Linked DNA regions of Homo sapiens. The protein of the gene in region 4 interacts with the protein of the main gene of each other region in a biochemical or structural test. Each region holds a gene or a part of one and is shown on either strand. Other genes may lie near its edges.

Evidence for each region.
Region 1: of the proteins of PTPRJ (region 4) and LCK, one has a biochemical effect on the other in vitro, tested with the Homo sapiens proteins (one large-scale study listed by IntAct).
Region 2: of the proteins of PTPRJ (region 4) and PKP4, one has a biochemical effect on the other in vitro, tested with the Homo sapiens proteins (one large-scale study listed by IntAct).
Region 3: of the proteins of PTPRJ (region 4) and WAS, one has a biochemical effect on the other in vitro, tested with the Homo sapiens proteins (one large-scale study listed by IntAct).
Region 5: of the proteins of PTPRJ (region 4) and NTRK1, one has a biochemical effect on the other in vitro, tested with the Homo sapiens proteins (one large-scale study listed by IntAct).
Region 6: of the proteins of PTPRJ (region 4) and PPP1R12A, one has a biochemical effect on the other in vitro, tested with the Homo sapiens proteins (one large-scale study listed by IntAct).
Region 7: the proteins of PTPRJ (region 4) and CNKSR1 form a complex in vitro, tested with the Homo sapiens proteins (one large-scale study listed by BioGRID).

What each region holds. Positions count from the first base shown.
Region 1 is NC_000001.11:32,257,765-32,261,264, reverse strand, and holds part of LCK (tyrosine-protein kinase Lck), read right to left. Parts: intron 1-3,500. UniProt on the Homo sapiens protein: Non-receptor tyrosine-protein kinase that plays an essential role in the selection and maturation of developing T-cells in the thymus and in the function of mature T-cells. Plays a key role in T-cell antigen receptor (TCR)-linked signal transduction pathways.
Region 2 is NC_000002.12:158,459,952-158,463,451, forward strand, and holds part of PKP4 (plakophilin-4), read left to right. Parts: intron 1-3,500. UniProt on the Homo sapiens protein: Plays a role as a regulator of Rho activity during cytokinesis. May play a role in junctional plaques.
Region 3 is NC_000023.11:48,686,799-48,689,362, reverse strand, and holds part of WAS (actin nucleation-promoting factor WAS), read right to left. Parts: coding exon 2,408-2,564; intron 1,310-2,407; coding exon 1,267-1,309; intron 1,064-1,266; coding exon 910-1,063; intron 704-909; coding exon 297-703; intron 44-296; coding exon 1-43. UniProt on the Homo sapiens protein: Effector protein for Rho-type GTPases that regulates actin filament reorganization via its interaction with the Arp2/3 complex. Important for efficient actin polymerization. Possible regulator of lymphocyte and platelet function.
Region 4 is NC_000011.10:48,165,559-48,168,448, reverse strand, and holds part of PTPRJ (receptor-type tyrosine-protein phosphatase eta isoform 1 precursor), read right to left. Parts: intron 1,246-2,890; coding exon 1,087-1,245; 3' UTR 1-1,086. UniProt on the Homo sapiens protein: Tyrosine phosphatase which dephosphorylates or contributes to the dephosphorylation of CTNND1, FLT3, PDGFRB, MET, KDR, LYN, SRC, MAPK1, MAPK3, EGFR, TJP1, OCLN, PIK3R1 and PIK3R2. Plays a role in cell adhesion, migration, proliferation and differentiation.
Region 5 is NC_000001.11:156,870,865-156,874,364, forward strand, and holds part of NTRK1 (high affinity nerve growth factor receptor isoform 2 precursor), read left to right. Parts: intron 1-758; coding exon 759-891; intron 892-2,768; coding exon 2,769-3,095; intron 3,096-3,500. UniProt on the Homo sapiens protein: Receptor tyrosine kinase involved in the development and the maturation of the central and peripheral nervous systems through regulation of proliferation, differentiation and survival of sympathetic and nervous neurons.
Region 6 is NC_000012.12:79,773,068-79,775,582, forward strand, and holds the end of PPP1R12A (protein phosphatase 1 regulatory subunit 12A), read right to left. Parts: 3' UTR 501-2,515; downstream 1-500. UniProt on the Homo sapiens protein: Key regulator of protein phosphatase 1C (PPP1C). Mediates binding to myosin. As part of the PPP1C complex, involved in dephosphorylation of PLK1. Capable of inhibiting HIF1AN-dependent suppression of HIF1A activity.
Region 7 is NC_000001.11:26,180,491-26,183,990, forward strand, and holds part of CNKSR1 (connector enhancer of kinase suppressor of ras 1), read left to right. Parts: coding exon 1-120; intron 121-224; coding exon 225-406; intron 407-1,366; coding exon 1,367-1,451; intron 1,452-1,870; coding exon 1,871-1,912; intron 1,913-1,989; coding exon 1,990-2,094; intron 2,095-2,706; coding exon 2,707-2,766; intron 2,767-2,855; coding exon 2,856-2,924; coding exon of another isoform or gene 2,925-2,945; intron 2,946-3,238; coding exon 3,239-3,340; intron 3,341-3,500. UniProt on the Homo sapiens protein: May function as an adapter protein or regulator of Ras signaling pathways.

The DNA.
Region 1 (3,500 bases), on a different chromosome or scaffold from region 4:
AAAAAAAAAAAAAAAAAAAAAAAATTAGCCAAGCATGATGGCGTGATGGCATTTGCCTGTAGTCCTAGCTACCCAGGAGGCTGAAGTGGGAGGATCACTGAGCCCAGGAAGTCAAGGCTGCAGTGAGCCGTGATTATACCACTGCACACCAGTCTGGGCGACAGGGGACCCTGTCTCAAAAAAAGAAAAAATTAATTAAATTAAATTAAAAAAAATTTTTAAGTTAACATTTTTTCTCCTCCAACTATAGACCTATTGATTTATTGAACATTTTGTCCAAAATGTGTGCCAGCTTCGTGGCTGAGTTTCTTGGGCCAATGCTTTACATCAAGAACAGGCAGGTGGTCGGATGCAATGGCTCACGCCAGTAATCTCAACATTTTGGAAGGCCAAAGTGGAAGGATCACTCGAGGCCAGGAGTTCAAGACCAACCTGGGCAACATGGTGAGAACTCATCTCTACAAAAAATACAAAAATTAACCAGGTGTGGTGGTGCACGCCTGTAGTCCTAGCTACTCAGGAGGTTAAGGTAGGAGGATCGCTGAGCCCAGGAGGTTGAGGTTGCAGTGAGCCAATATCATACCACTGTACTCTAGCCTGGGGGAAAGAGCAAGAACCTCTCTCAAACAAAACAAAACAAACAAAGCAACACAAAAAACAGCAGACAAGACTATACTTCCTTTAGGGATCATTTCTTTAGTTCAGTTTCTCTGAACATGTAGAGCACAAAAAGTAAAAAAGAAAAAAGAACAAGCAGACTATTCTACTGCAGACCATTGTTGTACTCTGGACCACCTCATGGCAAAATCTGTCAGAAATCATTTAGAATAGCCAGGGCTGGAGGCTCACGCCTGTAATCCTAGGGCCGAGATGGGAAAATCACTTGAGCTCAGAAGTTCAAGACCAGCCTGGGCAACATAGTGAGACTTTGTCTCTGTAAAAATAAAAATAAAAGGCCAGGCGCAGTGGTTCACACCTGTAACCCCAACACTTTGGGAGGCTGAGGTGGGTGGATCATGAGGTCAAGAGATCGAGACCATTCTGGCCAACATGGCGAAACCTCATCTCTACTAAAAATACAAAAAATTAGCTGAACGTGGTGGTGCACACCTGTAGTCCCAGCTACTCGGAAGGCTGAGGCAGGAGAATTGCTTAAACCCGGGACTGCACTCCAGCGTGGCGACAGAGCAAGACTCTGTCTCAAAAATAAAATAAAATAAAATAAAAATAAAAATAAAATTAAAAAAAAATGAATCATTTAAAACATTTTCTTCGCCTTTGCCCCGACCCAGACTTGATTAATGACAAAGCTGCCCATGTTCAATAAAGAGCCTTAGCTATTCATGCCCACATAGAACCCTCATGACAATATCAAGCAATATCAAGAATCAGGGCTAGCAGGCATGGCAAATAATTTCTTTCTTTATTTTATTTTATTTTGAGACAGGGTCTTGCCCTCTTGCTCTCTTGCTCTCTTGTGCCACTGGAGTGCAGTGGCAAAATCACAGCTCACTGAAGCCTCGACCTCCCGGGCTCAAGCAATCCTCCCACCTCAGCCTCCTGAGTAACTGGGACAACAGGCATGTGCCACCACGCCTGGCTATTATTATTATCATTATTATTATTATTATTATTTTTATTTTTTTAGATGAAGTCTCACTCTATCGCCCAGGCTGGAGTGCAGTGGTGCAATCTCGGCTCACTGCAACCTCTGCCTCCCAGGTTCAAGCAATTATCCTACCTCAGCCTCCCGAGGAGCTGGGACTACAGGCGTGTGCCACCACACCTGGCTAATGTTTGTATTTTTAGTAGAGATGGGGTTTCACCATGTTGGCCAGGGTAGTCTAGAACTCTTGGCCTCAAGTGATCTGCCTGCATTGGCCTCCCAAAGTGTGGGATTACAGGTGTGGCATGAGCCACCGCACCCAGCCTCCAGCTATTTTTTTTTTCTTTTTCTTTTTCTTTTTTTTTTTTTACCTGAGAAGCTGTGAATGAGAGGGCCCGGGTAATTTTTGTATTTTTTTAATTTTTGTAGAGACAGGGTTTTGCCATGTTGCTCAGGCTAGTCTCAAACTCCTGAGCTTAAGCAATCCACTGCCTCAGCCCCTTAAAGTGCTGGGATTACAGGCATGGGCTACCGTGCCCCGTCAGTAATTAATTTCTAGTGGGTAAATCAGGGATGTGTCCTGGGCTACCTCCTTTTTCATATTTGTTTAAATACATAATACTTTTTTTTTTTTTGAGATGGTATCTCACTCTGTGGCCCAGACTGGAGTGCAGTGACACAATCATGGCTCACTGCAGCCTCGACCTCCCATAGCTCAGGTGATCCTCCTACCTCAGCCTCCTGAGTAGCTGGCACTATGGGTGGGCAACACCACGCCTGGATAATTTTTGTATTTTTAGTAGGGACAGGGTCTCACCACGTCACACAGGCTGGGTTTTTTTTTTTTTTTTTTTTGAGACGGAGTCTCGCACTGTTGCCCAGGCTGGAGTGCAGTGACGTGATCTCAGCTCACTGCAACCTCCACCTCCCAGGTTCAAGCGATTCTCCTGCCTCAGCCTCCCGAGTAGCTGGGATTACAGGCACCCGCCACCATGCCTAGCTAATTTTTTGTATTTTTAGTAGAGACGTGTTTTTTAGTAGAAACTAATTTTAGTTTCACTATGTTGGTCAGGCTGGTCTCGAACTTCTGATGTTGTGATCCACCTGCCTCCGCCTCCCAAAGTGCTGGGATTACAGGTGTGAGCCACTGCGCCCAGCCTGGTTTTTTTTTTTTTTTTTAAAGAGATGGAGTCTCACATCTCACTCTGTCACCCAGGCTGGAGTAGTACAGCACATGATTGTAGCTCACTGCAACCTGAAACTTCTGGCCTCAAGTAATCCTCCCACCTCAGCCTCCCGAATAGCTGGGATTACAGGCAGGAGCCACTGCACCTGGCTTTAATTCCGCTCTCTCTCTTTTTTTTTTTTTTCCTTTAGAGATGGGATCTCACTCTGTTGCCCAGGCTGGAGTGCGGTGGCATGATCATGGCTCACTGCAGCCTCAACCACCTGGGCTCAAGTGATCCTCCCACCTCAGCCTCCTGAGTAGCTGGGACCACAGGTACACACCACCAAGCCCAGTTAATTTTTTTATTTTTTGTAGAGACGGGGTCTGCCTATGTTCCCCAGGCTGGTCTTGAGCTCCTGGGCTCAAGCAGTCCCCTTGCTTTGGCCTCCCAAAATGCTGTGATTATAGGTGCAAGCCACCACACCTGGCTTAATACCTTTTTTGAATGAACTCTGTAGCCTCTCGACACAGAGAGAACAAAAAAAAAAGCATTATTTTGGATGCAAACAAAATGGATTTATTTTCACAAATTGGGAGTGTCTTGAACATAGAACTGATTCTGCTAGTCAAGTATCGCTATAAATAAGGGATATAGAGCAATTATTCTAATTGGTATTTTAGTAGAAGTCCCCCAACCAGTAACGTGAATATACCTGATAATCCCTT
Region 2 (3,500 bases), on a different chromosome or scaffold from region 4:
AAATAACCGAAATTGTATTTTGACCAAAGTGCATTCCCTCCCCACCCCCTACTATTATGTAAGGAGAGGGTGCTGCATCTGGTGTCTTATGTATTATACTGAAGAGTCTAAGTTGGGAAAGCTAAATATCCAATTATTTTAATTTTTACCTGTATTGTTTTTGGAGGGAGATAAGGGAGCAGAGTATTGATGGAAAACAAGGGAAGAAGAAACTAGGGGCAGCTAGTATTCAGCCAGAAAGTAAAATTATATACATTATTGCAGCAGTAATGCATTTATAAGCTGAATAAATCAAATCTAATTTTGTGACTAGTTCTGACATGATATGAATTTAAAGAAACTACTACCAAATTCAGTTTAATAAAAATTTTAGCATTTCTATGACCTTGAGTATTTGGATTAGGTTTAAATTAGAATCGCAGTTTTCTTCCTTTTCTTGTAAATAGGCAAAGTAAATTTAATGTAAAAATTTGAAACTCGCTTTAATTTTTGAAAATGCAATTATTGGCAATTTTTGACCTTAGTAATTTCCATGCTGTTACCCAGGGATCAATTTAAATAATATTCATACCCTGGATGATGCCAACCATCAGGTAAGTCTAGTCTCTTACCTGACTCTTTTGAAATATTAAGGTATTTTGAGAATGCTCTGTAATCTAATGTGTTTTTCTTTCTGTTTCAATTGAGCAGTAATTCCCTACCTTGCTTAATTCTAAAATGGACATCATATCTTCATTCTTAAATGGAAGGTAAAATAGAGGTTACTATAGGGTTATTTTAGGGCATAAATGCCTATGGTATTGTATGTCAGTTTGGGAAGTTTGCCTTCACGCCTTCAAGTGTACAGGGAGATAGTTACTCCTTCAATGTGTGAAATGATTCTGTAGTGCCCTTCCTGCACTGAAGGGGGAAGAAGAATCTGAAACATAACACCAGAGGACTAGGTATGTTTGGAGAATTAAATAACTATTTCACAGCCAGACAACACTACAGACAGCTGCAAATAGAGAAAAGAAGGAAAACTTTTAAGATACGTGGATGTAAGCTTTCATTCTTACATCAATGGAAGTGATGATAGCAGTCAGCAGGTCAGTTCGATGCTCAGTGATAAGAAATAACAGGGTTATTTCAAGGTAAGGTAATCAGGCTCTAAGTTGCCAAGAACAGTAATTCATGTACTTGCTGGTTTCAGTTCAGAAGTTGCATAACATTCAAATATTTCTTACCTTGTCACTTTAATAATTCAGTGGAATTATCTTAATTTAGTGTGCTATGTTACCATTACTAAATTGGGGATGTTACATGATGGTGATCTTCAATTAAACTTAGGAATGTTGCAGACATTTTCTTCATCATTGACCTGTTGTTTTTCCTTTTCATAATTCAGATTTGTTTGATATACCAATAAATGTTGGCTATATCACTGATCATTTTATTATTCATAGTCTTGATAACATTATAGTTTATTATGACTCATATATAATGATTCATTGCAGCTGATAAAATGTTGTTAGGGATTGTATTGTGAGATTTTATTACTACCAAATATATAAATTAAAATGTGGAAGTGTCTGAGTTATTGTAAGTCATGTGATTGCAAAGCATTTTTCCTGAATGGAATAATGCCTGGTGACTGGGTGGGTGCCAATCCAGGTAGCTAGATATAGAATAATACAGTCTTCACAAAATCCAGAACTCACAATATAGGGTAGGGAGGGAGGGGGCCAGGGGAAGCACCTTTCTTTGACATCTGAGGCATGTTTGACTTCTATAGTTTCCTCTCCACTAAATATAAATTGGGTGAGTTGCAAATATTTAATGGTGTTAGTACTGCTCTTCCTTCATCTGTGCCCCTACACTGCCCCCACCACCCTGCCACAACACACACACACTATGCCATCACCACATCTGTGAGCTTGGCAAGGCAGAGGAAGCTCCTTATGGCCTGAGACCATGTACATAAAATGTAGACATTGGTGTCCTGTATTCCAGGTTGAATTTAAAACAGGTATGGGGTTTGACACAAAAATGATACTGTATATGAAGGTTAGGTAAAATATGTATTTGAAGTGAGGCTATCAGGGTACTATGCAGGCTTTTGGGGCCTGGCCCGAAACTTGGAATGCAGTTTTTCATAGAAACCCACAATCAGTTTACAAATAGACTTTTGAAACACTGGCTAGGTGGTATCTGAAGTTTTGGCCCATTGCAAGCTGTGTCTGAATTGCAAGCATGAGGGAAGTAAAAAGCATCCCAAATCAGAAATTAGGAGATCTGCCATTAAACCTTATTACCTTGACAAACCATTTAATGTTTGGATGATAGCTTCCTCCTTTTAAAAATACAATTTGGATTATATTGATCTAAGTTATATTTTAGCTCAAGATTCCTGAAGTTCACAGTGGTTTTTAAAAATTTTTCTTAAGAAAAAAAAAAGAACAAAAAACTTTTCCAAGCTTGAATATACATAATCAGCCCTGTTTCCCCTTGTACCTCAAATCATGGCAACAAGGAAGTTGAATTTCTCTTTTGAGACTTTTGAACCTTCTTCACATTCATTTTTAATTGTTTTGTTTTAAAACAATATCATTTTGGGAAGTGAGGGGAAGGGATGAAGCACATGTTTTCAAAGTCTTGCTGTCTGCCTCTACCCTAGTCTGAGATTACATATGGTAGTTTTGGCCAGGGAAAGTGCTTGGGATTTCACCTTCATACTCAGTGAGGCTCATGAAGTGTCATTAAGGTAGTGAGGTGTCATGATTAGCAGCCTTACTGTCAGGGTCCAATTCTGGCACTGCAACTTGCTGGCTGTGTAACCTGGCAGATTGTATAATCTCTGTGGTCCTCGTTTTGCTCATCTGTAGGATGGAGTGATAAAAGTACCCACTTCATATGGTTGTTGGGGAGATTAAATGAATTAATACATGTAAAGTGCTTACAACAGGAGCTGGTTCAGAGCCAGCGCTTAATACATTGAAATAATTATTTTTACATTGTGGTGCTTTTATGATGGTTTCTGCAGCATTTACCAAATGCCAGGGAAATTATTGGCTTGCTTTCTGTGTGGGTTTTGTCAAAATGATTATGGATTTCAACAGGATATTTCAGAGAAGAAATAAACTGCTGAACAGAAACCATTGTGAGCTTGATAGTTTGCAGGACATTGTAGAAAAGAGAATCCAGCACAGTAATTAAGGGCCTTTTTAAGTAGGGAAGTTGTAGCTTCTTGCGGTAGGCAATACTTAGAGAGGCATTAACCACCGCTAGCCAACAAGTATAGGAGAATGTATACAATTATTGCGTTTGTAATCCCAGGTAGTAGTCATTTTATAAAATGTCTTTGCTAGTCAGTACATGAATAAAGCGTTAGAAAGTGTTCATCATTTAACACCATTTGCCCAAATGCAGCTTGTAAATTAACTCTTTAAGCTGGCTTTTCTGTCTGAAAGTGATCACAGTTGAAAAAAAAAAAAAAAAGGATATTTGAAATCAGCAGGAGA
Region 3 (2,564 bases), on a different chromosome or scaffold from region 4:
GAGGTGGTGGCTGCAGCGCTGAGCTCTCTGGGGCCCCAGGGGTCTGCAGCAGGCAGGGATCAGCACAGAGGGCTTAGGGCCTGGGAAAGGAGCATTTCTCCCCGCCCCTCCATCAATATTTTCTCTCCCACACACTCCAGTCCCCTTCAAGGCTTCCCACCAACCTTTCAACCCTATCACTGAATCCCTAAGGCCTGGCACTCTCCTCAGTCCTGGCCTCAGCCCCCCAGTATCCTGACTTAGACGGGACACCCCAGAGTCCTAGACCCCCAATCCTCCATCCTGCCTGTCCTCACCTTGTTCAGCTGAATTCCCTGCCGGATTTGATCCAAAAGCGCTCCCCGACCCCCACCAGGGGCCAGGCCCCCGGCAGGCACCAGAGCAGGAGGGAGTGGGGGAGGGGCTGGTCCATTCCCGGAGCTGGGCGGCGGTGGCGGTGGTGGCGGTGGTGGTGGCATGGGTGGCCCACCAGCTCCAGGGGGTGGAGGGGGCAGTGGTCCAGAACGTCCAGTAGCTGGAGGGGGTGGTGGTGGAGGGCCCCCTCGGCCTGGGGGTGGGGGTCCCCGGGGTGTTGGTGGGGGTGGGGCAATCCCCAAAGGTACAGGGGGCAGTGGACCAGAACGACCCTTGTTACCCCCCACAATAGGGGGCCGGGGGAGCTGGTTCCCTCCTCGAGATGGCGGTGGGGGCGGCGGAAGTGGCTCTGTGGAGGGGGTATAACACATAGCTGTAACTCTCATTGATTTCTTCTGAGCCTCAGTTTTGCTCATTTGTAAAATGGGTACCCCCACTGACCAACTCCTGACTGAAGCAGTATAGGTGCTCCCATAAGGACTGAGTGACTTAGTGCGTATCTTAGCTATGAGCTGCTTGGGCTAGAGAAGGGAGCGTATGGAAGCAGGGTCTCACCCTGGCGCCTCATCTCCTGCCGCACAGCCTCCAGCCCACCCTGGTCCTCAATGAAGTCGTAGATAAGTTTAGAGGTCTCGGCGTCGGTGAGCTGGGCCTCGCTGATTCCTGCCCTGGAGAACAGACTCCGCAGATCTGGGTCGAGGTTGTTCACCTGCCCAGGAGGAAAAAGGCCAGGGGCAGGAGTAGAGGAATAAGGCGAGGAGACAAGCGACATGGATTGTCGTTGGGTCCATCCCAGCAAGGGATCTGAGAGGGGTGTGGGAAGGGCACGATCTGGGGGTGGGGTCTCAGCAGTGGTCTTTGGAAGGGTGGGTGGAAGTTTAGTGGAGTCCAAGAGACTCTGAAGTTACTCACGTCAAATCCATTCTGGGGGTCCCACCCCACGTGGCTGACATGCCTGGGAGAGGTGAAGAGACTCCAGTGAATCCTCACTGCCCTTCCTTCCCTCCCTTCATAGTGAAACCCTCTTGCCCTCTCCTGCCCAAAGAGACTCTGAGGGGCCAGAATTAATGAATGAGACTGAATGAGTGAATGAGTATAGGCAGGAGTTATGGAATTAGAAGGGCTCCATAGTTTGTGGTGCTGATCCATCCACCCATCCCTCTTTCCCCATCTATCCCATGCATTTGTCCACCTATTCATTCACATTCATCTGTTGGACTACTGATCTGTCCATACATCTGTCTCTGCAACTATCTGCCCACATATGTCTGTTCACCCATTTGTCCACCAGTCTGTCCTCACACACACTTGTCCATCCACCCATCCACCTACCCATGTGCCCACCTTTCCATCTATCCATCCACTCATTTTTCTACCCATGCAACCACACACTTCTGTTCACTTATCCATTGAACTGTCCATTCATCCACGTATCTGTCCACCTGTCCATCCCCATCCACCTTGTCTGTGAGCCAATCAGCCTGCATATCAATCTGTCCACACACCTATCCACTCACCCATCTATCTATCCACGCACCTCCCATCAACCCATCCACCCATAAACTTGTCCATCCAACCACTTATCCATTCATTCTTCAACCCATTCATTCATCCATTCATTTATCCATCCATCCACCCATCCACTCACCCACCTACCCACCAGCCCTTCTCATCCATCATCTACCTCATCTATCTATCCATTTGTTCACCTGCCCACCCACCTGCTCTCCTAACAGCCCACCCAGAGTGGGCCCAGGGTGAGGCAAGTAAGGTGCCTAGGGTGCAAAATTTAAGTGAGTCACTCACTCTGAGAGTCAGGAATTACAGTTGCATGCCTCTGAGAGTGAGTGCCTCCTTAAATTTTGTACCCTTGGTGCCTTATTTACCTCTCCCTAGACCCAGCCCTGCACCTACCTATCCAACCACCCATTTACCCACTCAGCCACCCAGCCATCTGCCCATCTGCCCATCCTTCCATTCACTCAGCTGTCCACTTGTTCATGTGCCCCTCTGCCCCCAGGAATCTGTGGGTCCACTGGGGAGTGGCTCTCACTTGAATCCACTGGGTGCACCAATATCAGCTTTGCTGATCTTCTTCTTCCCTGAGCGTTTCTTATCAGCTGGGCTAGGTCCAGGTGCTGGGAGCCCACGGTATCGTGAACTCGTGATGTCAGGGTTCTGGATGTCCACTGTCGCCAGCCCCAGGGAGA
Region 4 (2,890 bases):
CACGCTGAAGTGTTCACAGATTGCCACGCTTCTGAACATACACACACACATACAGACACAGACACATAAAATGCCAACCTGAGTAAAACGTTACTAAAAACCTAGAACATCATGAATCACTAATTCACATATTGCACCTTTAAATAATCCTTCATACCAAATACAGACATGAGAAAAAGGATAATACAGGGACAAGAAAAGGATTTCTGCCACTGTAGGATTCCTCTGCTTCTCCCATTCCCACCCACAGAAATTCTCAAGGTGATATTTGAGTCGCCATTCTCACCCAACCAATGGGTTGAAAATGTTGCCAACAGAAGAGTCTTTGGAGAAAACTGGGAGGGAAAAGGGAAGAAAAAATGGAGCACAAATGTACAGGGGGCAGGGGAAGCGGAGTCGGGGCAAAGAGGCCTCCCCTGATCAAATGAGAACAGAAATGTTACTGAGGAAGCAAACCTCTGATGCTAAGCTACTGTTTAAATATTCCGTATATTCCAATTATGAGATTCAGTACAAAAATATAGATCTCTACTGAGTTTTGCCTGTGGAAGCATAATTCAGAAAAGGCACATGTTCAAATAGAAAACCCATTCGGAAGAGGTGCCACGTACCCCTCCCTGCGCAATCATCATCCACAATTAGGTATTTTCCATCGGCTAGATTCCAAGACACAGTAGGTAAAAATAGACCTCTGATACTTAAAATATATTCAACCCAACACAATCCTGGCTTTAGCATGTGAATCATATAAAATAGTCTTTTTTAAAAAAGAAATTGTTTTGGAAAAAAAAATCATAGCTCCCTTTTCCTGGTTTTCCACAATCCTCAAGGGGGAAAAAAAAAAAAAGTGACCTCATCCCATTGGTCATCAGGAATGCAGATGATTTGCTCCCCACCCATCCACAGCCCCCGACAGCCCCAATTTGTCATCTATCATATGCAGCTTCATGCCCTCAAAATTAGTTCTCACAAAACAGAACAAAGAATTAAGATATTAGACATATAAAAACATGTCGACATCGGGGCATGTGCCTTCGCTGTGGGTGCGACGGTCTGGTTCACTCCAGAAAGGTTATTCCTTTGGAATTAGGCGATGTAACCATTGGTCTTTCCAAATGTGGTCACGGGCGCAAGGTTTTCATAGATTGTCATTGCAGTTGTGTTCTGGTAGATAAGATCTACTTTTGAGTCTTTCTGGGATCTGACAATATCCAAAACACACTGATTGAGGAAAACATACTGGTCCTGATAGAAAAACGAAAGAGAGAGACAGAAAATGAACATGGGTCCCAGAAATTAGCACCCAAAATTATTTTCAAACAGGTCATTCCCCCGCCCAACTCCCAAACCCCATCCACCCAACAGCAAACGGTTCAAGCGAACATGTTTCAAGAGGTAACAACATTGCAGTGAAATCTGAAATCACAGAAGCAAGATGTCCTTCCTCAATGATTCTCAACCAGAAGAGCACACTCCACACCTCCCCTCCCCAAGGAAAAATGCCACAGTCTCAGGGAAGGGCAAAGGAAGGAGGAAATGTAGAGGAAAAAATGCACACACACATTCGAACAATCAAATGTCCAACAAGATTGCCTTGGCTAGTGAGACTGTACAGAGTAAGAATCAACTGTAATGCTCAACCGAGGAGCGAGGTTAAAAGGAGATGATCAGGTGGAGCTGGATGAGGACTATCCTTCAGGTAGGTATATCAGAATCTGTGGATAGTGATGAAGAAAAGAGGAAACAAGGGTATAAGCTGACACAGAAAAATATCCATGATATTATAAGAGGAGAAAAAAAATCACAGAGAAGCAACATACATAAAACAGGATCTGGCCAGGCGCGGTGGCTCCTGTCTGTAATCCCAGCACTTTGGGGAGGCCAAGACAGGTAGATCGGCTCAGGTTAGGAGTGCGAGATCAGCCTGGCCAACATGGTGAAACCCCGTCTCTACTAAAAATACAAAAATTTGCTGGGCGTGGTGGCACACACCTGTAATCCCAGCTACTCAGGAGGCTGAGGCAGGAGAATCGCTGGAACCCAGGAGGTTGAGGTTTCAGTGAGCTGAGATGGCACCACTGCACTCCAGCCTGGGCAACAGAGCAAGACTCCATCTCAAAAAAAAAACAGCATCCAATTTTTTCAAAGTACTGTGTGTGCGTGTGTGTGTGTGTGTGTTTACAGATGTACATAAAGAGTCTTATAAAGATGTACACCAAACTATAAACATTGGCTACCTCCAGGAAGCAGGATTGGGGAAGGAAGAGTAAGAGAAAAATATATTGAGGCCAGGCACGGTGGCTCACACCTGTAATCCCAGCAATTTGGGAGGCCGAGGCGGGCGGATCATGAGGTCAGGAGATCGAGACCATCCTGGCCAACATGGTGAAACCCCATCTCTACTAAAATACAAAAAAAAAATTAGCTGGGCATGGTGGCACACGCCTGTAGTCCCAGCTACTTGGGAGGCTGAGGCAGGGGAATCGCTTGAACCCAGGAGGCAGAGGTTGCAGTGAGCCGAGATCGCACCACTGCAATCCAGCCCGGTGACAGAGCAAGTCTCCGTCTCAAAAAAAAAAAAAAGAGGAGAGAAAAATATATTGTCAAATGCTTTCATATGAATAAGTATTGTTTTCAAAATATAAAAAAGAGATTAGACTCTAGTAGCAGGGATAAGAGTTCTATGTTTCTCAAAAAAGGATAAAAGATTGAGAAATACTACTTTATATAATTATAGCAGAAAAAAGAAAATCTCTCTTTTGACCAACACAGGAGTTGAATTTCACTCTTTCCACAACAACCACCAAGCTCACCCCAGAGCACGCAATGTACCCAGGCATCTAGAACATTCCCTGCTAGACTCAAAAACACAGCACATATTCATAGAGTT
Region 5 (3,500 bases), on a different chromosome or scaffold from region 4:
TCCACGGTTTCCTAGGAAGAGAAACTTGATCTGATTCAATCCTGACGATGATTCAGAATCAAGTCACTTTGCCTGTCTAACCTCACCCATGGTCCTCATCTGCTGCAGGAGGCGATGCCGCTGCTGTTGTTTCTAACTGCTGCTGTGCTATTTGCACCATCTCTTTGTTTCTGATCTTCCTTGGGCTGAGACTCAGTTTGTTAGAACTGTGTGTAAAACAGGAATGAATAGGCAGTGAGGTCCTAGTGGGGTCTCCAACGAGCTGTGTACAAATTTGGTACTTGGGATGCGTGACATCTGTTTAGCTGCTCAGATGGCTGGTTTTAGTTTCAGTTTGGGATATTTTGTGCCTATTTTGAGGCTACTGGTTAGATTTTAGATTTTTCAGATAATTAAATACGTGATCCAGGCTGGGCGCAGTGGCTCACGCCTGTAATCCCAATACTTTGGGAGGCCGAGGTGAGAGGATTGCTTGAGGCCCTGTTCAAGACCAGCCTGGGCAGGACAGTAAGACCCCGTCGCTACAAAAATAAAACATAAAATAAAAAAAAAATGTGATCCAGGAGATAGTCAACGAACAAACCTAAAGGAGGAAGGCCATTATCTGCTACATTCTCTCCCACCCCTCTCTCCCTTCTCTTCCCTCCCAGCCCTCCTCTCCTTTCCATCTGGAGCCAGAGGGGCTCTCCAAAGACTTCAGCCCCAGCCCCAAGCTGGCTAAAGCTCCTTCTTATTCCCCCCTCTCTTTCCTGATCTAGAAATCTGGGGGTCTGCCATCCCTGGGGCTGACCCTGGCCAATGTCACCAGTGACCTCAACAGGAAGAACGTGACGTGCTGGGCAGAGAACGATGTGGGCCGGGCAGAGGTCTCTGTTCAGGTCAACGTCTCCTGTGAGTCTCAGTGGCAGCTCCGGCACCCACCCCCTACTCATCTCTTCTTCCCTCAAAAGAGGATGTAGGGTGGGGGGCTGGAAGAAAGGGTGGGATGTGTGTCTCCACAGCTGCTCCCTCCCAGCTGTTTCCAGATTCCCATGAAAACCTGATCCTTTGGGGGAAGTCCTGGGGTCTTGTCAAGGCCAGAGGGATGGAGATGGATTTCTTTCTGGCCCCCTGCCCGAGCCTTGCTACCTGAGGCCCTCAACGCCAGATGCCCGGCTGTTCCCACTGCTCCGAAGTATTTTTTCATGCCCGTCCCTCATCGGGTCCTTCTCCCCGCATCCTAGTTTCAAAAGAGGAAATTCTCCTCCTGAGTTCCTCTTTACGCTCGCTGCCTAATTTCTCTAGATCAGCCAACAAATTATCTTAAATATTCTACTTTACATCAGTTTTCTTCTTTTATTGTGAAATATACATAGAAATGTGCAAAAAATATATATATTTTAAACAATAATTACTCTTACCAGCATCACGGAAGATCCCCCACCACCCAACACCTCTCCCTGTTCGCAATCCCATCCCACTCTCCCATCTCATGTTGACTTTTGTCAGGATAACCATTTCCTTGCTTTTAAAAATAATTTTTCTCAAATATGCTTTCCTATCGGTATCATTTAGTTTTGCCTGTTCTTGTACATTATATAAATGGAATCATACTGCGTGTATTATTTTGTATCTGGTTTCTTTCATTCAACATTATATTTATAAGATTCATTCATGTTAATGGGAGTTGCTATATGTAGCTCATGCAATTCATTGCTAAATAGTATTCCTATGTATGAATGCTATATTATATATATATATACATATATTTATGCATACATACACTTTTTTTCTATCATTGAGGGGCTTTTACTTTTACCAGATTGGGTCTATTTCTTTTTTTTTTTTTTGAGATGGAGTCTCGCTCTGTCACCCAGGCTGGAGTGCAGTGGCGCGCTCTCGGCTCACTTCAAGCTCCGCCTCCCAGGTTCACGTCATTCTCCTGCTTCAGCCTCCTGAGTATCTGGGACTACAGGCGCCCTCCACCACGCCCAGCTAATTTTTTGTATTTTTTTAGTGGAGACGGGGTTTCACCGTGTTAGCCAGGATGGTCTCGATCTCCTGACCTCGTGATCCGCCCGCCTCGGCCTCCCAAAGTATTGGAATTACAGGCGTGAGCCACCGCGCCTGGCCCAGATTGGGTCTATTTCAAACGCATATCTTTTTTCAAAAAGAGTGTGTGTGTGTGTGTGTGTGTGTGTGTGTGTGTGTGTGTGTGTTTGAAGAGATGGGGTCTCAGCCTGTTGCCCAGGCTGGAATGCTTTGGGATCATAACTCACTGCAGCCTTGAACTCCTGGCCTCAAGCGATCCTCCCACCTCAGCCCCCTGAGTAGCTGGGATTACAGGAGCAAGTCACTGTGCCTGGCTTTTCCCCAAAAATTTAACTGTATATATTTTTGGCTGGTTTGATTGTTAGGGCCCCTGACCCATCTTCTTCAGCTTGGTTACACTGACTTCTTCTAGATTCCTTATCCCAAAGACTCCATGTTTAATTGTCATAAGCTGATACCCCACTCCTGTGGGGCTGTGACTTATTTATGGCCCACCACTTATGTTCTTTAAGCCTCTAAATTTTATATGCCTGCTGCCTGATTTATTTAAAATGTATTGTCAACTTTCTTCAAAACATCTCTCCTTGGTGAATTTCCCAGGGCCTGCTGACCTGTTTCTCCCAGGCCTGCCCTTTGATTTCGGGTTCTACTCGCTTTGCCCGTGGACTTGTCGGGTGTGTGCCAGGCTCCCTCCAGCTGCGCCCTGACCTCCTGCTGTTGCTCTTTCTGGCCCACAGTCCCGGCCAGTGTGCAGCTGCACACGGCGGTGGAGATGCACCACTGGTGCATCCCCTTCTCTGTGGATGGGCAGCCGGCACCGTCTCTGCGCTGGCTCTTCAATGGCTCCGTGCTCAATGAGACCAGCTTCATCTTCACTGAGTTCCTGGAGCCGGCAGCCAATGAGACCGTGCGGCACGGGTGTCTGCGCCTCAACCAGCCCACCCACGTCAACAACGGCAACTACACGCTGCTGGCTGCCAACCCCTTCGGCCAGGCCTCCGCCTCCATCATGGCTGCCTTCATGGACAACCCTTTCGAGTTCAACCCCGAGGACCCCATCCCTGGTGCGAGGGCCATCCTGAACCCTGCCCCCACTCCTGGGCTCCTCCTGGGTTACAGCCAACTTCCTGCTATAGCCCTGACCCCAGAAATTGGAGTGCCTGGTTCGGGACAGAAAGGAGTCTGGAGTCCTGGTGTCCCGCTGTTCTGGCCTCCTTACCCTCTCCCCAAGCCAGGACTCCTGAACTCCTGAGCTATTCCGTCCTTGTCGGCTGGCTGAGGAGACAGCCATGCAGCAGGGCATCCTGGCCCAGCTGGAAAAGGGTCACATGCATCTTCTTCCTTGAGGCCCAGCAGCCCACCTCCATCCCCCCTCGTCCCATGAAGGAATGAGTCCCAGAGTAGGCAGGGGACTCACTGCTTTCCTCCTCCCTCTGACTGCTTTCTCTCCTCCCTCTGACTGCTTTCTC
Region 6 (2,515 bases), on a different chromosome or scaffold from region 4:
CACAATCTTGGCTCACTACAACCTCTGCCTCCCTGGTTCAAGTGATTCTCCTGTCTCAGCCTCCTGAGTAGCTGGGACTACAGGCGATTGCACCATCATACCTGGCTCATTTTTTATTTTTAGTAGAAACGGGGTTTCGCCCTGTTGGCCAGGCTGGTCTCAAACCCCTGACCTCAGGTGATCCTCCCGCCTGGGCCTCCCAACCATGCCTGGCTAAAAGTGCCTCTTATTTATAGATGTGTTAGCAGGTCGAACCTTGGACAAATCTAAATTGGAAAATGATCTAATATTAAAGTAAACTGTATGTTTCAATGGAATATTACCTTTATATGTATCGCTAAGCCTATGTTTGCAGATAAGAAAAAGCACAGGTTTACTTTAAGAAAAAAAAAAAAAACAATGTTTATGGAAGCGAAATCTTGTGCTACAAAGCAACTACCCTGAAACTCACTGTTATTAATTTTTACCCACTTATTATCATAAAAAAACTAGTTCTCAGATTCTGCATACAGACAGCTTTATGTAAAATATATAAACATTTGTCCAAATTGGTACACAGATTGCATAAATATGGCAATTAAGATTGCATTTACAGATGTGCATGTACAATGCTGTGCAAATTATCACAATATTACAATTTCAGAAATTATTCAAATTGGTATCCAAGTAAAGCAATTAGTGAAAAAATACCCATGCAGAATTTAAATATCTCAGAACAAAATTTAAAATGTCTTCATTAAAAGTTCACACATTTAAAATAGTTTTATTCATTTTATTTGTATATGTCAAAATACATTTTTATTTCCAAAATAGTGGGTTTTGCAACTAGTTTCATGCAGAAACAAGGTCTGCTCAATACTACCAATAAAATCAATATAGCACAGTAGCTGTTCAGTTTTAGATACAAAGAATAAATAACCTAAATACAAAACACTAAAATATTAGAAACATGTATTTAATCATTCTTCACAGGCATCCAAACTTCACAAATATAAACCATAGCATGCCTAACTGTTGTGCAACCAGAACATGTTGCAGTCACTCAAACTGATCAGTTATCTGTATATTTTACCTCCACATAAGACCATGGAAATTCTCAATATTCAGACCTACCATTCATACAGTTCAAATATAACCAAAAATAAAACTCCCACAACTATCCTTGTACCTTTAAAATCAAGAATCCTGAGCTTGGTAGTAAGAGCATAACCTTATATCTTCATAAAACCAATCGAGAGAGAGAGGACTTAAAATCCTGCTTACCAAAACACCCTTCCCCAACCCCAAAGTAATCTAAAATAGGCAGTAGAACACAATGACCTTTTAAAATGAAGGGGTACAAATTCACATTTAATATAGTATACAATACAATCAATAATACAATCAGCTACTATAAGCTTTACAATGTACAATTTATTCAAATGGCTGAACTGTTCAGTGGTTAAGGAGACAGTTATGTGCCAGAAAGATGTAGTATTTTTTGCATGGTTTAATGAAAATATAAAAGCTATTTGTCCAAATAAAAGCCATCGTCACTATGTACTTGGTTTTGCGCTTTTTTTTCCTTAAAAAAAAAAAAAGGCCACTGAAATGTATAAAATGGTCTGAACATGATGGTGGTATCAAAGTCGATGCCTCTTCACATGGCAATAACAGTGCATTTAACATTAACTCACGGGTTAATTCTGCAAATGATTTCATAGCATTACTTTGGCTAGCACAACAGTTTTAGACAGCACTCAGATAAATATAGGTATGTGAAATGTAAAGCAATTATCTTATGCAACTTTAATTATGGTTGAGTACTATCAAGTGAAAACTGAAAATAAAAGCACTTTACAGTAGGAAACTTTTGTAAAGATAGGGCTCCACATAATGTGTAACTTTTAAAGTCTTTATATCACATTGTTAGCAAATTTTGTTTTTTAACACTATCATGGAGTAGCCTACTCTGCATTAGCAGACATTTGAAATAAGAAATAGTCAAGCATGCCATGTGGTGGTCTAAAAATCAAAACAATACACTTATTTGTATATACAGCATCACTCAGTACCTGCTAAAATGAATGTGAAGATTACAGAATCTAACATCTTATACTACAATAAAAAAAAAGTGACCAATGAAGCAGAAAATAGGAATTAAAAGATCTAACCTCAAATGACTTTAAAGCATTCATATAAGAAATAAATGCATATTGCACAAACAGTGAAAGCATATGTTCCACCAAGCAATTCAGTTCCAGGTGGGAGACAACACAGCATTAGCCTAATACATGACAATAATCACAGAAGAGCAAGTGTTCTTTTCTGTAATGAAAAAGCTGTGAAAACATAGAAGACTCTGCCACATGAAGAGTTTAGAAGGAAAAAATACAAACCCAAACTTAGATGAAAAGCCAAAAAATTTAAATATCGAAAAACTCGAAACTGTGGCACATCAAAAAATGTTGAGTAACTGTCTTCTGTGAGAGCTGAAAGTTTTTGTTGACACAAAAGTATTTATGTACAACTAAGG
Region 7 (3,500 bases), on a different chromosome or scaffold from region 4:
TGGCAGCTGCCTGGCAAGAACCTGCTCCAGCTCTGCCCCCAAAGCCTCGAGGCTCTGGCTGTGCGGTCTCTGGGACACCAGGAGCTCATCCTGGGCGGGGTGGAACAGCTCCAGGCCCTGGTGAGTGAATGCTGGTCACACTGGCTGCAGCTTCCACCAACCTGGGGGGTGTGATGGGGGGCTGGCTGCTGCCAGGGAGGTGACTTGCCCTCTTTCTGGCACAGAGCTCCAGGCTACAGACAGAGAACCTGCAAAGCCTGACAGAGGGACTTCTGGGGGCAACCCATGACTTCCAGAGCATAGTCCAAGGCTGCCTGGGGGACTGTGCCAAGACCCCTATTGATGTCCTCTGTGCAGCTGTGGAGCTGTTGCATGAAGCTGACGCCCTCCTCTTCTGGCTCAGCAGGTACCCGGGTTGGGGTGACGAGTGAGGGACTATTGTCATCCTTGGCCTCCTTCAGGGCGTGGGAGAGAAAAACAGATCTTGGCTCTTGTTCAGATATGGTGAGCCAGGCGTGGTGGCTTAGGTCTGTAATCCCAGCACTTTGGGAGGCCGAAGCGGGCAGATCACTTGAGGTCAGGAGTTGGAGACCAGCCTGGCCAACATGGTGAAACCCCATCTTTACCAAAAATATACAAAATTAGCCAGGTGTGGTGGTGCGCACCTGTAATCCCAGCTACTGGGGAGGCTGAGGCAGGAGAATCACTCAAACCTGGGAGGTGGAAGTTCCAGTGAGCCGAGATCATGCCACTGTACTCCAGCCTGGGCGACAGAGTGAGACTCCCTCTCAAAAAAAAAAAAAAAAAAAAAAAAGATATGGTGGAGCAGGGCAGAGGGATTAATCCACCTGTGCAGGGGCACTGGGATGCCAGAGTTCCCACCCCACCCTCCAGCTTGTAATAATCGATCTCATCAACAACCACTGAATGGAGAGCCTCCCCAACCCTGTGCACTGGCTGCTGCTTGTCCTACAGACCCCACCTCAAATGTCATCTCGGGGAAGCCTTCCCTGTTGTACACTCTCCAAGCTATACTATTAATAAATAATAAATAATAACTTATTATAAACTCATTATCCAATGTTTCATGATACTCATTACAGCCAAAGTTAAATTGATATTGATGTATGATGTCTTTACTGTCTGTTTCCCCAGTGCCTAGAACAGGGCTTGGCATGTGGTAGGCACATGACAAATAAGTCCTGTGCTAATCTCTTTAGATGTCTCAATCATCTCCTTTACTCTAAACCAAAACCCATCAGAGCAGGTATTATCCCCAAGTCTCTGAGGTGAGTAATTGGTGAGTAATTGGCTCTGAGTGGTTAAGCATAGTCCCTTAACCACTGTGCTATTCTTCCCCTGCCAGGTACCTCTTCTCCCACTTAAATGATTTCTCAGCATGCCAGGAGATCCGAGACTTGTTGGAGGAGCTGAGCCAGGTCTTGCATGAGGTAGGAGAACCAAGGGCCAGGCTTGGCCCATGCCCTAGAGACCAAGCTGGGCTAGAGCTTTTTATAACCTGTGAATCAGCCCAGGATCGAGTATGAGGATTGAGACGGGCGAGAAAGGAGGAGAGGAGGCCCTGCCACTGGGTATGGGACAATGGGGCCTGGGGTCCCCTAGCTGGCAGGGGAATTTTGACACTCAGGACAGGGAAGGAGGGGAGGGCACGTGTGGTGACTTCTGGGGGCCTGGTATCAGGGAAACGAGCCCTCTGGTTAAAACGCTGAGGCCCTGTGGTTCTGGGCAGGGGGCCAGTGTAGGGAAGGCAGGGAGGGACTGTACGGAATCCCACCCTGCCCCCAGGAGAAGGCAGTCCCCTTATGGCCCTTGCTCAGGGGAGGCCCCTGCTCTCTCATTCTACTTCCAGGATGGTCCAGCGGCTGAGAAGGAGGGCACAGTCCTGAGGATCGTGAGTCTGTGGGGTGGGAAGAGAGTGGGGGTAGGGGCGATCGGGCTCAGGCTACATAGCCCGCTCCCCTCCCCCAGTGCAGCCACGTGGCTGGGATCTGCCACAACATCCTGGTCTGCTGCCCCAAGGAGCTGCTGGAACAGAAGGCCGTGCTCGAGCAGGTGCAGCTGGACAGTCCATTGGTGAGCCCTGCCCTCCCACCTCTCACTTCTGACCCCTTGGCAGCCTTGTCTGGGCCCTGAAATAGGGTCCAGGATCCCACAGAACCCTGTGCTGCCATGGCTGGAAAGCCTTTTTTGTACAGATGCTAAAATGGAGGCCCAGAGGATTGGCCAGGGTCTCCCGTTGCTCTGCACCTCCCCAGTCCTGAGGGGCCACGCGGGTGTGGCCTCAGGTAGTGTGTTCCAGCCTTGGGATGGAGACGGGGCAGGGGCTTGGGGGCAGTTAGGAGAAAGGGAGAGGATGTGACCTTTCTTGGTTTAATCTTTGACCAGTGGGGAAGACCAGAGCCCTATCCCTGCCCTGTCCCTGCTTGTCCCTTTAGGAATGTTGCTGAGAAGCTGGTACCTCAGAAATCAGGGTCTCCAGCTTCCCTCTGGCTCTTAGCAGAGGAGAAGGCAGAGGCCCACAGGAGTAGCAAGTCCAAAGTCATACAGCAAGTCTGGGCAGGACCAGCTTGGGGTCAGCTCTTGCCACAGTTCCACCCACCATAGAGTCCTGGTGTCTGGCGGGGGTCCTGCCTATTGGCCCTGTTGCCCCCCAGCCCCCGGTGACTATAGCCTCTGCCTCTGCAGGGCCTAGAAATTCACACCACCAGCAATTGCCAGCACTTTGTGTCCCAAGTGGACACCCAGGTGAGAGCCCCACACCCTTCTCAGCCGCCCATCCCCGAGGCCTCTCACCTGCAAGCCAGGCCAACCTCAGGCCCCATTCCCCACGTCAGGTTCCCACTGACTCCCGACTGCAGATCCAGCCTGGAGACGAGGTTGTCCAGATCAACGAGCAGGTGGTGGTGCGTGAGGAGAGGGACATGGTAGGAGGTGAAGGGGTCACCGAGTGGAACCCAAGTCTGGTGGGTGGGGAGGCAACCAAGGGTTCTGACCAGGGTTGTGGGAGCTGCCTTCCAGGAGATGAGCCAGCTAAGTCTGGTGAGAGCATCCTCTGCAGAGCCCAGGTGATGGGGCCCATGGAAGCCCCCAGGAGGCTGCATGAGTGGGAGGCAGAAGTGGGAGGCTGAGAGAGAGCTCCCAGCACGAGGGTGAGAGTTGGTGGTTGCTTTAGAGCCTCCTGCCCAGGTTGATACCAGCCAGTGTTTCTGTCCCCCAGGTGGGATGGCCCCGTAAGAACATGGTGAGGGAACTGCTGCGGGAGCCAGCCGGACTCAGCTTAGTGCTGAAGAAGATCCCGATACCGGAGACCCCCCCACAGGTACCTTCCCCTGCCGCCCCCCGACCTGCCTTCAGACCCCCCCCTCCACAGGTACCTGCCCCCACCACCCCCACACCTGCCTTCAGACCCCCCCCAACAGGCACCTTCCCCTGCTGCGCCCCCCTAGCTCCCTTCAGACCCCCCCACAGGTACCTGCTCC